Homo sapiens: one gene and its partner. The protein of the gene in region 1 interacts with the protein of each later gene in a biochemical or structural test. Each region holds a gene or a part of one and is shown on either strand. Other genes may lie near its edges.

Region 1 (11,620 bases):
CCTGCCTCAGCCTCCGGAGTAGCTGGGACTACAGGCGCCTGCCACCACGCCCCGCTAATTTTTTGTATATTTAGTAGAGACGGGGTTTCACCGTGTTAGCCAGGATGGTCTCGAACTCTTGACCTTGTGATCTGCCCGCCTCGGCCTCCCAAAGTGCTGGGATTACAGGCGTGAGCCACCGCGCCCGGCCATTCATAAGTTCTTTACACATTTATCAGAATGAATTTGGACAGTATTTTATGTTTTTAAGAAGGAAAGGATAATGCACATGTTTTTTCTTTTCCGAGAACTTCTACTGAGAGTTAAAGGTTGGAGTGGTGAAGTGATGGTTTAAAAAAAAAAAAAAAGAAAAGAAAAGAGAGAGACAGAGGAAGATTTTAACATTAAAAGAGGAATTTAGGGAATGGCTGATGGTCATGACACGGTCGGCAGAGGAAGTTTTGCTTACTAGCCACACTTAGGCTTCTGAGTAGAGTGGATATTATGTCATTGCTATTATAGCATGTGTTTATTTCACACACTGCTTTTGAAGATTGGGTGGAAACTGTCAGATGTGAGGCATAGCATGAATGAAAGGTAAATAGCATGAGTATTAGAAAGTAGATGAGGAAGTTTAATAATTTTAATGTGCTTCATAAGCTCTCATGGACTTTCACGTATCAATTAGTAAAAGACGTAACTAAGTGATCTGGCTTTCAGTCTCCTAGTTCTCTACAGTGTACCCTCAGTTTTCCACGTGCTTACACATGCCTACATTTGTACTGAGAGAAAAGGAAATAGTTTTTTTTTTTTTTTTGAGACAGTCTTGCTCTGTTGCCCAGGCTGGAGTGCAGTGGCACGATCTCGGCTCACTGCAACCTCCACCTCCTGGATTCAGGTGATTCTCCTGCCTCAGCTTCCCGGGTAGCTAGGATTACAGACATGTGCCCAGCTAATTTTTGTATTTTTAGTAGAGGTGGGGTTTCGCCATGTTGGCCAGGCTGGTCTCAAACTCCTGACCTCAGGTGATCCACTCACCTCGGCCTCCCAGAGTGCTGGGATTAAATAAATAGTTTTATGTGGCTGGGTGTGGTGGCTCACGCCTGTAATCCCAGCACTTTGGGAGGCCGAGGTGGATGGATCACGAGGTCAAGAAATCAAGACCATCCTGGCCAACATGGTGAAACCCCATCTCTACTAAAAATACAAAAAATTAGCTGGGCATGGTGGCGGGCGCCTGTAGTCCCAGCTGCTCAGGAGGTTGAGGCAGGCGAATCACTTGAACCTGGGAGGCGGAGGTTGCAGTGAGCTGAGATTGCACCACTGCACTCCAGCCTGGCGACAGAGCGAGACTCTGTCTCAAAAAAAAAAAAACAAAAAAAAAAGAAAAATATTTTATGTAAGTAGGGATGTGTAAGCTGTAGTGATCAGTCTTTGTTGCAGAATGGTAAATGATGCGTGGATGAGAGAAGTGGGGTGATGGGATATTTCTTCCCTTTAATGCCTTAATTTGCATTTCCAAAGCACCTTTAAGCATCTTTTTATAGAACTCCCATGATCTTCTGATACCTGTCTTCTCGCAGACCCCAGAAAGAGAATACACCAATTTTCGTATCATCTATTCCATTGTTGCCGAATATTTGAGTTGTTTCAAGTTTGGGGCAATTGTGAACAAAGCTGCTATGAGCATTCCTATACCTGTCATCTGGTGCCCATGTGCACAAGTTTCTCTAAGGTATACACCTAGGAATGAAATTGCCGGTTTATAGCTAGGGTGACCATTTGTCCTGGTTTTTGCTTATTTTCCCAGCGTAACTGTAACACTTTTAGTTTTCAAAAGTATCTAGGGTTAGATGATGAATTGTATGGTCACCTAGTCATAAGGTATGCTTGTCTTCATCTTTACTAAGTACCAAACTCTTCTAAAGTATTGTACCAGGTTACACTCCCTCCAGCAATATATGAATTCCCTTGCTTCTCGCCCTCTCCAATCTCAGCCTTTTTAGCTTTTATGATTTTAGCCAATATGGTAAATTTTGCGTTTACCTGATTAGTAATCAGATTGCACAGCTCTTCATATATATATATATATATATATATATATATATATATATTTTTTTTTTTTTTTTTTTTTTTTTTTTTTTTTTTTGAGACGGAGTTTTGCTTTTGTCACCCAGGCTGGAGTGCAGTGGCGTGATCTTGGCTCACTGCAACCTCTGCTTCCTGGGTTCAAGCGATTCTCCTGCCTCAGCCTCCTGAGTAGCTGGGATTACAGGTGCCCACTACCACAACCAGCTAATTTTTTGTATTTTTAGTAGAGATGGGGTTTTGCCATGTTGGGCAGGCTTGTTTCAAACTCCTGATCTCAGTTGACCCGCCCGTCTTGGCCTCCCAAAGTGCTGGGATTACAGGCGTGAGCCTCTGCACCCGGCCAGCTCTTCATATACTTTTTTAGCCATTTAGATAGCCTCATTTATAAAGTTCTGTTCAAGTCTTTCCCACCCTGCTTTTAAAAGTTGGGCCTTGTATCTTTTATTGCTATTTAGAAGTTCTTTATTTACTGTGAATACAAGTCCTTTGTCATGTGTGTGTGTTGCAAATACTGTGGCTTGCCTTTTCACTCTCTTTATGGTGTCTTTTAATGAACAGAAGTTCTTAATTTTAATGGAGTCAAATTTATTGGTCTTTACTTTATGGTTAGTGCCTTTTGTGTCTTGTTTTAAGACTTTTCCTACCCTGAGGTCAATAAGATATTCTCCTATGCAGTACTATCTTTTTAAAGCTTTGTTGACCTTAAACAATGTATAACTATGAGTAAAATACACTCTTCTTGACCCCAGCCTCACCATTACAATCTATTTTTGCTTTCCTTCACTTTTTTCTGTTCTCTGTCTTGAATTTTTACTTCTCTGCAGCTATAACTAAGAGCCAGGTGCTGACTTCTCCTGTCTCTTAGGAGAAAATGGTCATATAGACAGAAGTTCAGCCAGATTAGATTTTACAGGTCTCCAGCTGACTGTATTGCCCTTTTTCCTTTTATGAGCTAGCATTTTATTGTGTTCCTGCTATGTGTCTGCCATCATCCTTGCTGCTTTCATATTTGTTATCTCAGTGATTCCTCTTAACGGTTCTGTAAAACAGAGAAGTATTCTCATTTTTACAGAAGAGAAAACAGAGACTTAGATTGATTTAGTAGCATGTCCAATATCCCCTAGCCTAGGTAGCTAGCAGAATGGGGACTGGATCCCTGACTCTGATACTTCCCATCACAGCACACCTACTTGTTGATTAAAATGTCAGAAACCTGTTTTTTGATAACATCCAAAACCAAAAAGAATAACTTTCTTACTCTTGATGTAACATGCCTTAAGTAAAGCACACAAAGCTAACTATTGTGAAACTGGATAAAATACCTCTCTGTATATAGCCAGTGGACCTTAAGTGGTCCATGGCTGGATGACAGAAGGTCTGTTAACCCTTAAAAATGTATACCAGTGTATATGGGTACATGTGCTTATTTTTTAGAGTAGAGCTATAATATTTATGAAACTCTCAAAAGGGAACCTGAATTTTTCAGGGTATCTGGATATCTGGTCTGAAGACATCTGTAATACAGTTAACAAAGAATCCTGTAATAATCTCTCTTTCAAAAGAATCATAAAAAAGTTAAGATGTCAGATTTTTCTCAGCCAGGTGCAGTGGCTCATGCCTGTAATCCCACTACTTTGGGAGGCTACAGTGAAAGGATCCCTTGAGCCCTGGAGTTCAAGACATGCCTGGGCAACATAGGGAGACCCCCGCCTCTATTTTTATTTATTTATTTAGATTTTTTGGTATCTTCATTTTATCTTATTTATTTTGTTGAGATAGAGTTTTGCTCTTGTTGCCCAGGCTGGAGTGCAATGGCGTAATCTTGGCTCACTGCAACCTCCACCTCCTGGGTTCAAGCAATTTTCCTGCCTCAGCCTCCCAAAGAGCTGGGATTACAGGCATGCGCCACCACGCCTGCTAATTTTTTGTATTTAGTAGAGATGGGGTTTCACCATGTTGGCCGGGCTGGTCTCAAACTCCTGACCTCAGGTGATCCACCTGCCTTGGCCTGTCGAAGTGCTGGGATTATAGGCATAAGCCACCAAGCCTGGCCTTGTATCTCTATTTTAAAAAGTTTTTTAAAAATCACATTTTTTGGCCGGGCATGATGGCTCATGCCTGTAATCCCAGCACTTTGGGAGGCTCAGGCAGCTGGATCACAAGGTCAGGAGCTCGAGACCAGCCTGGCCAACATGGTAAAACCCCGTCTCTACTAAAAATAAAAACAACAACAACAAACAAACAATGGCATGGTGGCATGTGCCTGTAATCCCAGCTACTCAGAAGGCTGGGGCAGGAGAGTCGTTTGAACCCGGGAGGCGGAGGTTGCAGTGAGCCGAGATCACGCCATTGCACTCCAGCCTGGGCAACAGGGCAAGACTCTGTCTCAAAAAAAAAAAAAAAAAAAAAAAAATCACATTTTTTCCCTTAATACATTATTCTCGGTCTTTGTCATCAAAAACCAACTAAAGCTAATTTGTAATTAGGGAGAAATCTAGGATTGAATAGGAATTTTTAAATGCCAAAAAAAGACACTCTAAATTTAGTTGATTATTTCTTAAGTGAAAGTGCTTAGTTATAATACATCATTACTAATCAGTGTACCCTGGCTCCAAAGACCTGATGACTTCAAATGACTTTTCATCTTGTCTCTAAATTCCTCTGTTTTACAAGGGATCAAATTTCCTGTGAGGTTCCTAACAGTGTGATTAAATTTTAGAGACTGAAACTATTGAGCACTTAAATGCAGGGATAACTATGCAAACCTAATTCATGGGTTTCACCAGGAGATTTGGGACCTGTCTCTACTAATTTATGATGATGATGTTGAAACTAATCTTTGCTAGGGATTATGGAAACCATAATAGTTTATTGATGGTTCAGTTATTGTTTGTTGAAGCACATTTACACAATTATAGTTTAATGACATAACAAGGATATTGTCAACTAGGAGAGCATGACATGAAAAATTAAACTTGCAATTAATATAATATGTATTAGTTGAAATGATAATTTTTATGGTGATTTAGCCTCTTAGAAATCCTTGGAAAACATTATTAGCTTATGAATTGAAAACTCTCTTTGTTAATGAGTAGTGGGAAAGAACTTAGTGTTACTCTAAAAAGATGGGGAATTAAATATTCAGTTCAACCAGCGTTTTATTGAGTGCCTGCTCTGGGCTTGCTGCTGAGTTAGGCTCATAAATATAAGTTGAACAAGATTGATGTTTGCAGAGATGAAATACTGGTTGCTTTTGTTTTTTCTTTCAATCACCCTTCCCTCCAGAGTAGATGGCTACTATTGCCAGAGTGATTCAAACATTCAACAGGTTTGTGTGTGTATGTGCATGCCCTTCCCTGTGCATTATGGTGTCACCTGCTCCTGCAGTGGCTTCCTATTCATCTGTCACGTTCACACACCACAGCTTGGCTTTTTTCACAGCCAACTTTATTTCTGTTTTTTTTTTTTTTGAGATGGATTCTGGCTCTGTTGCCAGGCTGGAGTGCAGTGGCGCGATCTCGGCTCACTGCATCCACCACCTCCGGGGTTCAAGCAATTCCCCTGCCTCAGCCTTCCGAGTAGCTGGGACCACAGGCATGCACCACCACGCCTGGCTAATTTTTTGTATTTTAGTAGAGATGGAGTTTCACCATGTTGGCCAGGATGGTCTCAATCTCCTGACCTCGTGATCTGCCCGCCTTGGCCTCCCAAAGTGCTAGGATTACAGGTGTGAGCCACTGTGCCTGGCCTATTTCTGTTTTTCATTTTTAAATTATATTTGTCTTTTTTAGAGACAGAGTCTTGCTCTATTGCCTAGGCTGGAGAGCAGTGGCACAATCATAGCCCACTGTGGCCTCAACCTCCTGGGCGGCTCAAGAGATCCTCTTGCCTCGGTCTCCCGAGTAGCTGGGTCTACAGGTGTACACCACCACAGCCACCTAATTTTTTATTTTTGTAGAGGTAGGGTCTTGTTGTGTTGCCTAGGCTTGTCTCGAGCTCCTGGCCTCAAGTAATCCTCCTTCCTTGACCTCCCAAAGTGCTGGGATTAGAGGCATGAGCCATTGTGCCTGGCCCAACTTAATTTCTTTATCCCTTTTGAGCATATACCTGTTCTAGTCAGGCACATGGACTTGGTGTCCCTTTTGTTTGACAGCTCATTCTTAGCTTCTGTTATTTCACTTTGATTTCCTTCATTCATTCCCCGATACATTTATTTAGCAAATAGGCATTGAAACCCTCTTATGATCAAGTTGTGGTCTTGGGAAATCTTAGGGTATACAAAGATGAATCAAGCATGAATCCTGTTTTTAAGAATTTTATAGTCTAGTAGGGGTGACAAGGTTAATACACAAGTAAGCATAATACTAAGTGGGAAATGAATGTCAAAACAGTAAAAAAGCTAAAAGCTTCCTGTTAGACAAAGATGTTTGGGGCTTTTGAGAAGTTGTTTGCACTGGGCCATGAAGGATTTGAATTTGGGCAGAGGGACGGTGGGGCACTTATCCAGGCTCAGCATTATCTTTCAAGGTTCAGTTTCAGTCCCATCCATCCAAGAGATGTTCATCCATCCTCCACGTGGTTTCAGCAAGGTAGTATAGTCACAGTTGTTTCCAGACTTCTTCCTTCTGTAATCAGAGGAACACTTCCTTTAAAGCGAATCTTATGGGGAAGACAAATATATGTAAAACAGTTAAAGTGGAGCTGCACTGTTGGGTTCAAGGTGCTGCAATGGCCCAAAGTTTAACCCACAAGGGGTACCTGAAGGTAATACCCGAAGTAACTCCTTGTCACAGAGATCTAAAGAGCCTAGTTTGAAAACCTCTGGAGAGACAGAAAGAGTTTGGGCTTTGGCATCTGAATTAAAATCCTTCATGACTTAATGGCTCTGAGATCTTGGCTAAGTCAAGCCTGTTTTCCTTTTGTAAAAACAACAATGCTACCTTACAGAGTTGTTTTAAAGTTTACTGATAATCTATGTAAAGTACCTGGACCACAGTAGGTGTCAGGAAATGGTTGGTATTATTATTATTATTATAGTTTAGTGCTTTGTTATTTCTTTTTTTTTAAACAATTTATTGAGGTGAAACTCACATAACATAAAATGAAAAAACCATTAAAAAGTGAACAAATCAGTGGCATTTAGTACATTCAGTGTTGTGTCACCACTGCCACTATCAAGTTCCAAAACATTTTTATTGATCCCAAATAAAACCCCTTACCCATTAAGCAGTTTCTCTAGATATGTCCCTGAGACTCCACCAATCTGTGTTTTGTCTATGGATTTATCTATTCTGGATGTCTCATATGAATGAAATTATATGATGTGTGGCCTTTTGTGTCTGGCTTCTTTCACAGCATAACGTGTTTGAGGTCCATCTACATTGTAGTAGCATGTATCGAAACTTCATTGCTTTTTATAGTTGTATAGTATTCTAGTGTATGGATATACCACAGTTTATCTGTTCATCTGTTGATGGACATTTGGGCTGTTTACACCTTTTGGCTACTGTGAATAGTTTTGTTATGAACATGGGTGTACGTGTACTTATTTGAGTATCTGTTCTCAATTCTTTTGAGTCTATACCTAGAAATGGAATTACAGAACCATATGGTAATTCTGTGTTTAACTTTTTGAGGAACCGCCAAACAGTGCTTTGCTATTTCTTAATTGCTTCTTATATGTTCTGTCTCTAGCTTTGCTTTGTATTCCCCATAGTACCTACCACAGGGCTGCATGCAGGGAGCATCAGCTCGCTAAATATTTGTTGGTTTTTCTTTGATTAGTATTTATAACCTCACCTCCCAGTTCACATGTTTTGGGCCTGAAGCATTGATTTCAGAGGAAATAGATGCATCCAGGATTTGAAAGATAAGAAATATCACCATATGGATGGCGTTTCATGTTGTCAGACAACAGATATTTGTTAACCAAGGACACTATTTTGAGCAACTCTGCCAATAACCTGAGCTGGGTGCTGATAGAAGAAAAATAAGTCAAGGTCCCTTCCCCTAAACAGTTCTGTTCTGTTTCGGAAGATACTGCTTAGATTTGTGGATGCTCACTCAGTTACACAATGGGCTTTGAAAAAATCCAGGTTTTCCAACAGTGATCCCTTTGGGGAAAAAAAAGAAAGAAAAAGCCAGGACTTATGAAAGTAAAATAGTTAAAAATAACTGTTAGCAAGTAAAACTCAGGATGACAAAAGTGTAAACTCTATTATTAATCTTTGTTTTTTTCTACCACTGTTTTTTGCCTCATCCATAATCTCATGACTTGAGTGTTATGACATTGATTTTGAAACAACACACACAGCTTTAGTAAAAGCTTAGAGGAGGCCTCGCATAATACTTATGATCCAGGATATTTTGACTCTTCTTATGCTGACATGAATATTTCTGAATAGTGTTGATGTTTATGTAATACCAGTGAAGCTAAAAGCTCAGTGCTGGACTAAGCATTTCTCTAGATATGTTTAGAATATTTGTAATGAATGATGTAAATAGTGTTATATTATAAGACCGTATGATACAACCATATAATTTACTGATATTTTGTAGTTAAAAATAAAATGATTCACAACCTTAGAAAATAGAATAATTTAATTTGATGTAGCACAAATCCCCAGAATTAATTTAGGATGATTTGCTACCTTTTTGATAGCCTTTTAGTCCAACCTTCAAGTTTTTATAGAAAAAAAATGAAAAGAGAATAATGATTTTAGGGTTTTCGCTTGTGATAGAATGTCCTATCTACATGTGAAGCAAATCCCCATGCTCTGAAAAAGAGAAATAGTGTGGATAATTCCAAATCAGGAAAAAAAAAATCATTTCTATTTGGCTTTTGAATGAATTATGCATTTTTTTTTCCTGTGGATTTGTCTTTCCAGTTAGATACTGCTTAGGCTAAAATGAAATTGGTTTTCAATCTATTCTCTTGCTTATATGAATTTACAGTGGGGCCAGTGGGATGTTGGAAACAAATCAGCCTAAGATTAAAAAATTTGCGGTGGATAATATACAAAGTGGATAATATACATGTGTTTAGTTGAGAATTGGCTACAGATAAGAGACTTCTGATTTTGTTCCTCTCCTAGCTGTGTATTTTTTTTTTTTTTTTGAACACTGTGATTCTGCTTGTAGCAAAGAGCTGCTGAGTTACATCTGCTTCTGCCTAATTAACTCTGTTGGTTGGTGTCAGATGAGAGCTAATTTTGAGATTAAATCGAGGAGTGGGGTGTGTGTCGTGGCTGGGGGAGGGGAGAAGGAGGATCCAAGGTTGCTTGATTGTTTTACGTAAGATCAAAATGCAGTTATTCACAATTGTTCTTTTAAATTTATTTTTTGCTTTTCAAGTAAAAATAATCACTGCTGTCCTAAAATGTGACTTGTGTCAATACATATTTACTATTATGTAAACTGGTACGTTTTTCTTGTAGGTGAGCTTATTGGTCATATCTGGGTAGTCCATTCAGTACCTAGGTGCCTGGTGGCCTTTGGGACAAACAGCGAATGCTGCCCAGGAATGTGAATGCTGACCTTAAAACAACTTTTGACTGTCTTTTTTTCTGATAAATGTTATATCTGTTTGGCTATTTGAGTAGTAGTGGGTTTTTGTTTTTGTTTTGTTTTTCCATGATGAGATTTTTTCTTAGGAATCTATCACAAACCTGATTTTTAAAATTTGAACAGGTCTGGGCTTAGGGATGAAATTTACTTCTATAGGCACTTGGCTGGGTCCTTGGGGCTTCATTTTCTGTCTCAAGTTTCATATTTATAAGAATCCTTCAGTGGTCTAAAAGAATTATTATATCACCAAATGTAGTATAATAACTCATTGGAGCTGTTTGTCTTGAATGGTTGTGGAGATACACGGATGGTTGCTGAATTTAAGGATGTCCTTATGTCCAAATGAACATTTCCTTTTTTCTTTTGGCAGATTTGCCTGAAGACCTGGATAATCTCCATTTTTGTCATGGACTGTTAAAACGTTTGAAGTTCCAATTCTGGTACTTTCCCTTATTTTATTACATTTTTAAGGTATAAAATGACAATCTTATTGAAATGTGTTGGTAATGGATATAAACAATTGTTTTATGGATATAAATGATTGTGGGTAAAGATTTGTGGGCTGGGTGCAGTGGCTCACGCCTGTAATCCCAGCACTTTGGGAGGCCGAAGTGGGCGGATCACGAGATCAGGAGTTTGAGTCCAGCCTGGCCAACATGGCAAAACCCTGTCTCTACTAAAAATTCAAAAATTAGCTGGGCGTGGTGGTGGGCACCTGTAATCCCAGCTACTTGGGAGGCTGAGGCAGGAGAATTGCTTGAATCTGGGCGGTGGAGATTGCAGTGAGCCGAGATCATGCCATTGCACTCCAGCCTGGGCGACAAGAGCAAGACTCTGTGCCCCCCAAAAAAAAAAAAATGATTGTGGTAAAAGCTTGTCATGAAGGTATATTTTAGGTATCTATTAGTTATGAAACACATTTTTTTTTTTTTTTTGAGATGGAGTTTCGCTCTTGTTGCCGAGGCTGGAGTACAATGGCGCAATCTCGACTCACTGCAACCTCTGCCTCCTGGGTTCAAGCGATTCTCCTGCCTTAGCCTCCTGAGTAGCTGGGATTACAGGCGCATGCCACCATGCTTGGCTAATTTTTTGTATTTTTAGTAGAGACGGGGTTTCACCATGTTGGCCAGGCTGGTCTTGAACTCCTGACCTTGGGTGATCCACCCGCCTTGGCCTCCCAAAGTGCTGGGATTACGGGTGTGAGCCACCACGCCCGGCTATGCATTTTGTTTTAATGTACGTTCGTTTGCTTGTGTAACAAAACACCTAAAAGCAACTTGGCAATATTGGGCACTTTTCCTGTGACCTCTTCTACTTTCTGCAGTTGTATTTTGTGCAATCAAATTAAATTAGTTGTGATTCATCCTGAATAAATGATGAAAGATTAAATAATTACTTGGATACAGTGAAATATCTTCTAATGAAATTTTGCCCGAAACCATTTTACTTGGGAAAGATCAATTTCCTGTTCTAAACTAACTGACAGAGAATGATTCTGTGTTCTATCCTGAAAGTGGTTGCACTGTGAAAGCCAGTGATTTCATTCCTAAACACACTGTGTTCCAAGTCTAACATTTTTGTCAAGGGTTTATATAATGAAACAAAAGTGAGTACTTATTAGATTTGTAGATGACATAGATGACAGAATCAAGATTCAAAACAATCTTTAGCAGGTTGGAAGATAGGCTTAAATCAACGAGATGAAATTGAACGGTAATAAACGTTAAATTGCAGCATTTCAATTTGCAGAAGGAAAGGGGTGGAAAGACTCAACTTGACAGCACTTTTTGAAAAAAGATCTGGGATTTTTAGTTGGACTGCATGCTCACCATGACCACTTGTGTGGCAGGGGTATTGAGGAAGTTCCTGTAATTTGGGTTGCATTTATAATTGGATAATGCCTGAACTGTCATATTTTAAGATGGCCAATAGCCAAACTAGTGAGCAACCAAGAGAAAGTGGTGCTTTGAAACAATGTGATATG
Region 2 (11,620 bases), on another chromosome or scaffold:
GGTATACTCTATAAAAATTATAGACTATGTTAGTTACATTGATTTTTCAAAATATGTTGTCTAATTAAATTAAAACTTTAATAAATTTTAAATAATTTAAAACAACATTTAAAATAAAGTTTTGGATTAGATTGATTATGTACTTAGAATAGCTATTTGAACCTAATAGAAAAATAAGAATATTAATGTTTTTGGCTATAGTCATCTTATGGAATCCTCTGTACTTCTTATTTTCCTTATTAATATAGCTTGTTAAACACAACTTTATTTTTCTTATTAATATTACTGGTTAAACACATAACCATTGACTATCACCTCTATTGGAAGAAAAGGAAGGAAAGAAAGGAACTAATTTTTTCTTGTGAACAAGCTTTACAAATGTTTATTGGGGACACAATTTGGAATTAATATATTTTGGATATGCATTTTGTCTTTAGCTTATTTCTAGGAGTATTAAAAGTTGGCTATCTATTGGCTCACAATCTTGGCTAATTTATCTAGGGAGTTTTGTTTTAAAAAAGTTCTGAAGGCTTTCTCTCCACAAGCTGCTCTTCCCCAAGACTTACTCCCCAGGTAATTCTGTTGATCAGCCAGATTTGGATACCACTGTAACATAAGAAGTCTTGTATAGGCTAGTGAATTCTTTAATGGAATACTCTTTCAATCCCTTTTTTCTTAAAGCCTTATAGTCAAGTAATAAGATTACTTAGCCTTATAGTCAAGCAATAAGGCCATAACTATCTTAGTTTGCAAGATATTTATGGCAAGTATGTCTTCTTTAATGTAAATATTCTTATTTTTAATTTTTCTTCTTATATTACCTTATTTCTATGTTTTATGTCACCCTGCTTATTACATGTCATTTTATACTCACATGAGTGTAAATAGTTTATACTTATGTGTCTTCAGCTCAGGACTAGAATTTGTATGAGGCAAGCAAAGTGCCTAGGGCACAAAATTTAAGGAGGCTGTCTCTTTGAGGACTGTGCAAGAGTGAGTACCTCCTTAAATTTTGTGCCCTGGATGCCTCCCTTGTCTCATCCAGAGAAATAGGCTGCATATAAATTATTTTTATTTTAGTTTAGCATAATCTCATGCATACTTGGATGTTTTATAAAAAAATTGATGACAAAACGAAATAGTATAGCTGAACCCAAATTTATATTGCCCAGTATAAAAATAAATTAACTATTTGAGAAAGATAGTATTATTATTTTTATCACATGGTCAGTAACCCTCAGAGCTTCCTAAATTCCAGTTCAGCAGAATCTTGTTTGACACTGAAATACACTTGGTTGTTTTACCTACTGGCAGCTACCTGAAATCAGTGCTCTTGTAGCTGTCAAAGTTTCTTAATTCAAAATATAGTACCATCAGCTTTTTATATAAGCTTATATGTGATCATTTGAAGTAATCAGAAATGATACCAGTTTTATTGTATTTTTATTACTGATTTTAGAATTTCTTGAGAAGTTGCCTATAATTTTTTTTTTTTATGAGAGCTACATCTGGAAATGCTCAAAAGTTGTTTGCCTTTTTTGAGAGAACAATCTGCAGTGAAAGTATAACTTCTTTAGAGGTGATGTTTAAGTTAGCAAATGCTGAACCATAATGTGAGGAAGCATAATATTGTGAATTATTTGGCAAACATACCTAATACAGGCATTAGCTGTTGAAACCATTTGTAAAGTACAACTTACAGAAAGCTAGAAAGATAGGCTACACAGAACTTTATCTGTAAACTCTGAGGATGAAAACTAGAGTACAACTTAAGTTTATTCAATAAAGACTAAATTCTGTAAGTTTAAGTTTGATTTGTTTATAGGTTCCATGATTAATGTGTAATTAGAGTATGAAAGAAGCATTTAGAATCCTTTAAAATTTATAGGTGATAACATCATTGTCAAGTCAGGAGTTTTGTTTCTTAAAGTTAGAATTTACTTAAATATACTTTTTCTCTAAAAAAATAAAATCTTATTTCTACTTACAGTAGTACCAAAGTGAGTTTTCGCAAAAAGAATTATTTAATATGTATTTAATATTTGTTTCAAATAAACAAAAATAAACATAACAACCAACAGTGGAGGGGCGTCTTAGATTTGTTTTTAGCTTTCTTTTTCATGGCTTCTAGAAGTGTATCATATTATAAATACATTCAAAATGTTTTGCTCTGAGGATATGTAGCATTCCTATAAAGGTTAAATCAATAAAAATGATTTGGACACATTCCTAAGCATGGCTAGAACAGGTAGTCCGTTGTTTTAGGTACCCTTGAGTTTCTGGAGCAGATCATTATGGCGTAGCAAAAGAACTTACTAAAAGTTGCTTTCTATGTGTAGATGCATCAGCTTAAAAAAATAAGATTTTCTGGCCTTCTAGAAATGAGTATTTTTAGAGTAACCCTTGTATATATTGATTTAATTATATATTTTAAATGCAGTTAAAGTTTTGGAGCTTTTTTTTCTTCGAATGCTGGAGATACACCATAATTGATAAGGAAGAGGTACGTACAGGAAAAATGCAATGGCAAGCTTTTCCAGCAAATTTAGAATAAATGACAGTCTTATGGTTAAAGAAAGTATCACACATTATAATTGCAAAATAGGGATTGGATGTGATTCTTTTTAGTCTTGCCAGTTTAGAAAAAAATTCTGTAAGTCATTGGCATGTTGTTCTGTTCATATGGGCAGTTCAAAAGGCAAGCTTTAATTTGAGCTTTTATTTTAGAAAGCATATGTATATCTCCTATGTTCGGGGTTGGCTTCTCACTATATTATTGTTGCTATGTAGTTTTATGCATTTGCTTGCATTTTTTGTGTTCATGTCATAAGTTTTAAGTATGTAAGTTTTCAGATCACACTGTTTTCACAGCAAGTTTCAAAAAATATTTTTATGCCAGTTTATAATAATGAGTAAGGCCATTTTTATTAAAGTTTCCTTTAAAACAGCATTTAAGATGTTTCTGGATCAAAAAAATTAAGTGAATTGACCATGTATTTGAATGAAGAAAGTTTAAAACAGAGGTAGAAAATTTGAGTTACATGTATTATTAATGAAGTTATATTATAGAAAATCACTTCCTATCTTTTTGTACATCTAATATGTATTTACTTTGTAAGTAAATACTTTATTAAAAATACTGTGTTACAGTATTTCTTGGAGCACAGGATTTAATTTTATAGTCAAGAAAATTGTTTGAATACGTCTGAGTAAAAATTTATTGTACATATATAGAGTGGTTTAACCATTTAATAATTAAATAATTTAGCAATTTAAGCCAAGTATTTTGATGTTTTAAAAAATATTTAAGTGTATCTTGATAGATTCTGATTTTAGTGTGTCTTGTGTCTTGATAGGACCAGAATATTTATGAAAATAAAAATAAGCCTAATAATCAGCACATGGCTCTAAATTTTCTTCCTGGGTACTTGTGAGTGATAATGTTAAAAACAGATCACTTTATGTGTTTTCTCTAGTCCTATTGGTGTACAAAAATATTCTGCAATATGCTTATGCGTGTTATAAGGGAGGGATATTGTTAAATCTTTACTACATAATCAAGAATAAAGCTTTCGTGACAGTACTCATTGTCCTTATCTAGCTAACACTTTTAAAATGAAGTGGTTACTAGTGGTAAAAAGTTTTTAAAATGTTAAGTTTTCCTTCTAAATTACAGAGAGAGAAATAATGTATATGTGTTTGGTTTTGAAAACTGGGAGAATAGAAGAATTCTGGGTGGACACTGGAGTTTATAATATGTGAAAAGGAGTTTCTTCTGTGGAAAGGAGGTTGGATTAATGATCAAAAGTTGGAGTACATTGACTTGTATATTTCCATTTCTTTAGAAATACACTGTAGCACATTGTCTTTGTAAGTAGTATCTCCATAGGCATTATCTTCTTAAATATTTCATTTTTGCATTGACTCTTATAAGAGCAGTAGCAAGTTTTTCTGCATTTTGTCAAAAGCTGAATTACCGAAATGCTTTACAGATTTCATGAGAGGTAAAAAAATTAATCTTATTAGATTATCTTTTGTAACCATTTATCCTGCCTAATGTTAAGATGCTGTTGTCTTGATGGGAGTTTTCTCATAGATTACTTCATGGTGTCTTAATATTTTTGAATTGGGTGTTAGGTTCTTAGTATGAAATGCTTATGTACTTTCACAGGTATCAGCTTTATGGAAAACACAGTGATTGATATAATGTGGATTGTTAGCATAAAGAAGTTTCCTTTCTGTGATCCTGTACAGTTGTTACAGATATCTGTAATCTGACAGTTTATGAAATAAAATGAGAATTTACTTTTATCTAAAAAAATGTATTTTAATGAGCTGTGTTTGCATTAAAGTATCTTATAATAAAATTGTAATTGATTGAAGAGAATCCATACTGTGTACCTTTTTGATACACATGGATTTTCTAGGATCGTTATAGTGATACAGCAGTAGGTTGACATGTTGTAAAATGTAATACCATATTACATAGTAAAATAAATGTCATGATCCTTTCTTTTAAGCTTCAAAGTAAATTCACATTGTTTAGATACATTTAAATAATTTGTAATCATTTAGTAAAATTATATCTTTTCACTTAAAATTATATTGGGAATTTGAAGTCTTAAACTGGGAAGTTCAGTACAGAAATTTAAAAAGAAAGTTAATTCTAGCAATTATCATAGAAAAATTAGAAATTCAATGCTTAAATTGTTTACCCAGGTTACATGGTCAATGAGAAAATATACCTGTTTAGCTTCAAGCCAGAGTTGTTCTTTGAGATAATATTTATAAATAGGAATCTATTAGCAAATTAATTCCATTCATATTTGCCCTTATAAACTCTAATACTTTGTTTAACTGATATCAGTTTTTAATTATTGTTACTTAAGTTTATAACTGGAAAATAACATCTTTGGATTTTATAAGATTGATTATTTTAGTCTTGAAATTCCTAGTAGATGCCTAATCCCTGTTACTGGTTTTATAGATTGACATTTGTTAACTTACATGCAAAAAAATTTTGATTATATTTCATGACAGAACTATAGTACCTCAGTTACATAATTTACAATTTTTTTCCTGGTTTATAATCATTATTACAAGTTCTGTAGTCATTGGTGTGAATGCATTCACACTCATGCATGTGTATATGCCATGTATAAAAATGTTAAGACAAACATAGCCAGAAGAAATTTAAGTTGAACATATATGACACGTATTTTGTTTCGGTGTAAAAATACATCGTGTTCATGTGAAGTTCTGTGGAATATCACGTTATTATTCTGATATTTCTAAAGAAAGACTGCATATATATGTATTCAAACCTTATTGATGATTGTTATTGTGATTTGGCTAGCATTTAACTTTGTCTTTTTTTTTTTTTTTTTTTTGCTTTTCCTGAAGCACAAAATAGATGTAGGTGTAAGATACATGACTATAAGGAATATGTAAATAATGGTATGGTTCATGTAATTTAGGGGAACCTACAAATGTGTATTTAAGTTCTTGAGTTTTAACTTAGTCTATTATGTAAATATATGTTTATAGTTGATGGTATATAATGATTCTGGTAGACATCATTGATGTAAAAAATCGATGTAACTGAAATGTAAAATAAAATTACCTTATTTGACTTTGTGGTGAAAATTATTTGCCTTACATAGGATATTTAGATATACCTTTTTAGAAATGTCACTAATCTGATGTAACTAATGTATAATTAAGAGAATTGGCAATAGGAATAGTAGAGATAAAAGAGTCTTTAAACTGTTTGCCAAAATAATCTTAGATATATTTCTGGGAATAATGTTAACTTGGTAAATTTTCTAACATCAGTATGATAATTTTTAAATATCTCAAACATTATCGAAATTGCGTATGTATATATGTCAGAGATTTCCTTGTTTTGTGGGCAGTTGATTTAAAAGATGAAAATCATCTAATCAAGGTAAACATTTATCTTTTATTTAGAGCTCAAGTCACCCTTGGTATGATTTTTGTTCCTTGGGTGTATATTGGATTTATGAGTATTAACAAGAATATAGAGTAGAGGAAGTGCATGAATAACAATTTTTTTCTCTTCATGTATTAAGTACTTATGTAGCAACTAGCCTTTAAAGGCCTGTTTTAATTCTACAGCTCATCTTATTTGGGGATTGTTTTTTATATCAGGTTAAATGATATAAAAAATGATTGTTTTTTATATCATGTTAAATGATGCAGTTTCTGTTTATTAGTGTTTATGAAAAACTTTGCTTTAGTTAGGCTTCTTTCTATTCAGCAGTAACAACAAAACCTAAAGTGTTTGATAACATGTTGCTTACATCCACTCAACACTGTTCCAAATCTTGAGTCCTATGCCCTTAATAAATAGTATAAAGGGGAGGAAATTCCTAAGAATTCTACATAAAGTGAAGATACTGTATACAGTAAAAGAGCATTTAATCTGAATTGCTATACAGGTCTTAAAACAGTTGTATGGGAATGTATGGTCTGTTTCATGTGTATGTGCTGTTGAATGGACAAAAGCTTGTGGTTGACTGTGGTTAAAAATGTAAGGAAACTCCCTTTTAATAAGGTATAGAATTTCCCTGTTATTTTTTGAATCGTAACACATTAATCAAAAAATATATCCAGTGAATTTCATAATCTTTTTGAAATGGCAAGAGATTATATTAAGGCATAAAATTTCATTATGTGAGACTTCTTTTAAAGATTTGTTTTAAGATACTAACATCTCAGATTTGATGAAGAATTTTCACATGCTTTAGACAGTTAGCTTAGAATATTTTATTATTTAGAAAATACCAAGTATTGGAGTTCATTGTTATCTTTATTATGGGAGTTTTATGATTTTTTGGGGGGTGAGGAGAGGCAGAATTTTATCTATCTTCAGTGGAAGTTGCAGCGTTCATTGGTATAGGAGAAAAAATAGTACATTAAGGTAACGTATTGAGAAGTCTCTGCTTAAATTACCATTGGATCTGCTAGCACCTGATTAGTAATGTCTGACTTGTGAGTGACTAGAAAAAATAGTTATGCTTTGCCATAATTACAATTTTAGTATTTGCAGGAAGGATTTTTTTCACATTGAGTTGATGGCATTTGTCTATTTGGTCACATGTTTTTATATATTTTTAATAGATGCTATAGAGGTAGACTGTTTCGGTGAATCCTTCATATAAAATGTCTAAAGATTTTTGTTAGGTAATAGTATTTGCAGTTTTAATGCATTTAATGAGCTTTTGCATGACTTCACTATTGACTTAGAGTTGTCATATCTTAGTATCCTAGAACAAAGGTTAGAACAGTATGGAAGATTGGTATTTGTATGCTTTGGAGAGGGATTTGAGATGTTACCCTGTTTTGCCGTCAATTTTCAAGTATGCACGGGTGCATCATTAATCATGAGAAATGCAAAAATAAATAATATAGTCCCATTGGATTTTTTTCTATGAATACTTACCTTTTCCTTTTTTTTAAATATATATATACAGTTGAGGTATTTAGGTAACCCCTAACCTTTTGCTTCAACAAAGAAGTACAGTATAAAAATATTACCACAGTTTTCATGTGAGCAGCTCTTGAATCGGGGGGAGGGGGAAAGCCCTCTAGATGAATATTTGTTGAAAAAAAAAGTTGTGATACAGAATGTCTTAACTCAGCCTCAGTACAGTACTTGAGGACCACCAGTGTGTAAAATTGAAAGCACATGAATTTTGAAGCACTAGAAAAGGTTTGTAATTGATTAGCGCTGCTTTAAAGTATTGGAGTACAGTGAGTTTTGATTTGTGAATGGTTCTATTCAATAAATATTAATTCTGTGTGTTTGATAAAATCTTAGTGCCTTCAATGAGTTAGCTCCCCCCGCCCCTGCAGTTTATTTAACCATCAAATATTTCAGTGTTCTTTTAACAAACTGGAACATTTCTATCTTACCGAATTTAACTTTAGCATGACTGATTTAAACAAGTCAAACTATCAGTTGTTAGCTGGAAGAGAGTAATTGAATAAATTAATATTTTGTTCTTTTAAGATAACTAAAATATATCATAATGTAATCATGTATATTTCATGCCTTGTGATATAGAGACGGATTGATCAGGAGAGTCAGACAGACCAGCCAGATCTTTTTCCACAATTTCTTTTCAGTGTTTTAGATTTCAAAACATTTTTTAAAAATAAAAACTAAAAATCTTTAACAGTTTGTAATGTAAAATTAGGATTATTATAATTTAAAATAATTTATATGAGTCTTTGGGAATTACTTTGACATTTTTAGCTTTTGATATGTGTTAGAGTGATTTTCTGTGTTTGTTCTTAACTTTGTAATTCTGCTCCCTAGTTTTGGAATTTAGCTCTGTATTTTAAAAAGAAGCTATAAAACTTTGTCACTACTGAATCTTGAAACTATAAATATATTATTGATATGGACCACAATTGCTGTTTTGGAAATCAGTGTTCACACATCATGTTCAAGCAGTTACAAAGATTTTATGTAGATAATCAGTCAGCTGATATATTTTCATGAGTCATTAATTTTAAGATACTCTATGAGTCACATCTGTGATTTTCAGCAAGCTATATTTATGATAAATGATGGACAGATTTTGAGTAGTACAGATTGAAAATTTTTGATTAACTCAAAGTGAAGTATGCTGAGAGATCAAGGACACAGACATACTCTTTCTCTAGCATGTGCGCGCGCGCGCGCACACACACACACACACACACACCACTCATTGTATTTGAGGTGAAGCAGTTGTTAATGTGTGCTTTGTACCTCACCTAGGAAAATCCTAAACTTTCTTTTTAACTATTTTACAAAATTGGGGCACATACTTAAGACATTTCATTAGGTGGTGGTGATAATCATTATATAAAAATCTAAAGCCTGAAGTGAGGTTTTAGGCTTTGCATAGATTATAGAATGGGGAAATGTTTGCAATGTGATAACATATACATGATGTCCACTACTCACCTGTAATTAGTCTGAGGTAGTGGGTTGATGTTAAGTTCTCTATTCAGGCTTCAAGATACTGTTTGGGGGCTGGCGGGGAGGGAAGGTGCAGCCCACTTTTCAAAAGAGGAAGAACTGGTTGTAATGTTGGAAAAAAAAAAGGTTCACTACCATGCCTTGCTTAGAATCCTGTCAAGTTTTGGAAATTTTGAATAGTTATTAAGAATGTTACAGAAGTATAAGATCCCTGTTATGATAGAATAAGAAGCAGTTTAATATATTCTTTGTGAGAATTTTAACATATTCTTCATGATAACTTTACTTCTAATACTGAAGAATTTTTTGAAACTTGTGTTGTTCCTGATCTGGTTTTTAAAATGTGTTTAAAATAAATAGTTAAACAGAGTGATAACGTGAAAGAGTAACTTAACTGCCTCTGTTATCCCTCCCTGATATCTCTGTTATCCCTGTTTCAAGTTATCCCTCTGTGTAACAGTAGTTTTAACTATTCTTTTTCCTTTTATCTCTTGGGTAGTAGTAACAAAACTTTCGATGTATAAGCTGTAATTATGCTATGTGTTGTAATGTAGTCTAGCTGTGTTTATGTCCTGCTTCCTTAATATAGAAGTTTTTAGAGTAATACTTGGTACCCATCATTAAAATTTTAAATTAATCTGTGATTATTATATTGTATATATTATAACTGAGGGGGCCCACTTACAGCTATTGAGGGAGTCACTAAAGCAATTTTACATTTTTTTTTGTAAAATACAAAGTACATTTCCTCACCCTGTAAGAGAAACCATTTTTTCTCCCTTCAGGTTTAATTATTTCTGTTTGACCTAAACTGAGACTGATCCTCTAGTAGTATCCAGTTAAAATGTGTGAAGTAGGAGGAGTAAAGGAAACTCCAGTCATTAGTTGTAAGTTAAAAGCAGAGTTAATATAGATGTACACAGCAAGAAGGTTTATTTTAATGGATATAAGAAAAATTTTTGAAAACTTGCCTTGTAGTTGGAACATGTTGGAGATCATAAAGAGAATCTTGTAAGTGTGTTTAGATATTTTGCTATAATAACACATCAGCTGATGAATGTTAAAGTCATTTACATATCTGTATCAACAGTAACTTGAAATTAAATATTAAGGGACAAGATTATGCCTACTTCTTTTAAAGTCCAGCATGGTTTAATAGTTGTGGCTTTTAAAAATCATACAGGGTATCCTTATGGAGCTTTATTTTTCATGAGACTAAACAGCAGTTATTCATTTTGGTAGGTCCAAGAATGTGATTAAAAGAATCTTAGACGTTTCAGTGTTTCAGTGTGTTTATAACAAGGTCTATGGATAACAGTGTGTAGATGTAAAATTAAAATTACATAGAAAAATGCAGTTGCATGTAAGTTTTAAAATACTTCCATGAACTTTTTAATATCCTGGGCAACTATAAAGATCTTTTAAAAATGGCTGTGATGTGCTTATCATAATTTTATTTCAGCTGAATGTATACTTATATAAAGTTGTTTAGAAACAAACTTATTTAGATAGGATACAGTTTGAATTTATAAGTAGATTTCTTTTAGTTGAGCTGGTTAAAATGTTAACTGTACTACAGGTTTATTTCTGTGTTATACATGGTAGACCATAATGTTGAGATAATTCTGTGGTCTGTTATTTTGTAAAATTGCTTCCTTTTTGAAGTTTGCTCAAATATTGGGAGCTGCCGGAGTCAATAATTTATAATGCTTTGATTAATTTAGGATCTGACTTTTCTTCTGGTGAGGGTTAATGAGAGTATTAAACTGTTTCTTTTACTGTTTTCATATCCTCACCTCTATAACTCTAGAAAACATTTTGATCAATGTGAGATAATTTAATTTTGTATATTTCAAGTCATTACTTTGAAAATTAGATACATTACAGATACCAAATGCAAATATATACAGAAATTTCATTTTTCAATTCTTAATGCAACAAGATAGCATAATTAGGATCTTTAATATGCTATTTGGAAAAGCTAGCAGTTTATCAAAGAATCATACCTTTATGTTTAACAGGTTCATATCTTACAGGATTTTAAAAATGGTAACACTTACCCCAAAAGAAGTTTTGCTGACATGGTGTCACTGTGCTGAAGAGGCTGTTTGATGCCATAGTCCCTCCTTTTTTTTTCAGATAGAACTTGTACCCTCTGTTGTAAATACTGCTTGCAGCCTTAAACTGAAAATACAAACCATACCCAAACCTTGTTTTAGTTTTACAGTATGCCTGGAGTACATAGACTTTATATTTATTTTTTTCTGTCAAGAAATTATGTAGCTGGTAACATGTGAAAAGCAAAGAAACAAAACAAAAAGAGAATGAGCAAATATTTGAAGGACCTACTATTACTGCATAGACTGTGGTTAGAGAGCACTCACTGACTCTGTTGGTCTCGGTGGCTGGTAGTGACCTGCGGAGATTAACCATTTAAAAACCAGAGACTTCTTGCTGTCCTCCTGGAGAAAGTTTGCACCGCACTTGTGGTTCTGTGGTTGTTTGTGAGGCGAATGAAGCATTCACACAATCCAAAAAAGCAAAAGCTTTAAAACTCCTTTTTTTTGCAAGCACTATTACTGGAGAGGCAGAATCATGTGGTTTGTGACCTCACAGTACTCTTAA

Evidence for each region.
Region 2: the proteins of KAT6B (region 1) and RUNX2 form a complex in vitro, tested with the Homo sapiens proteins (one study listed by BioGRID).

The regions. Positions count from the first base shown.
Region 1 is NC_000010.11:74,828,677-74,840,296, forward strand, and holds part of KAT6B (histone acetyltransferase KAT6B), read left to right. Parts: intron 1-10,006; 5' UTR 10,007-10,076; exon of another isoform or gene 10,077-10,107; intron 10,108-11,620. UniProt on the Homo sapiens protein: Histone acetyltransferase which may be involved in both positive and negative regulation of transcription. Required for RUNX2-dependent transcriptional activation. May be involved in cerebral cortex development.
Region 2 is NC_000006.12:45,328,220-45,339,839, reverse strand, and holds the start of RUNX2 (runt-related transcription factor 2), read right to left. Parts: upstream 11,511-11,620; 5' UTR 11,380-11,510; exon of another isoform or gene 11,345-11,379; intron 11,180-11,344; 5' UTR 11,114-11,179; coding exon 11,056-11,113; intron 1-11,055. UniProt on the Homo sapiens protein: Transcription factor involved in osteoblastic differentiation and skeletal morphogenesis. Essential for the maturation of osteoblasts and both intramembranous and endochondral ossification.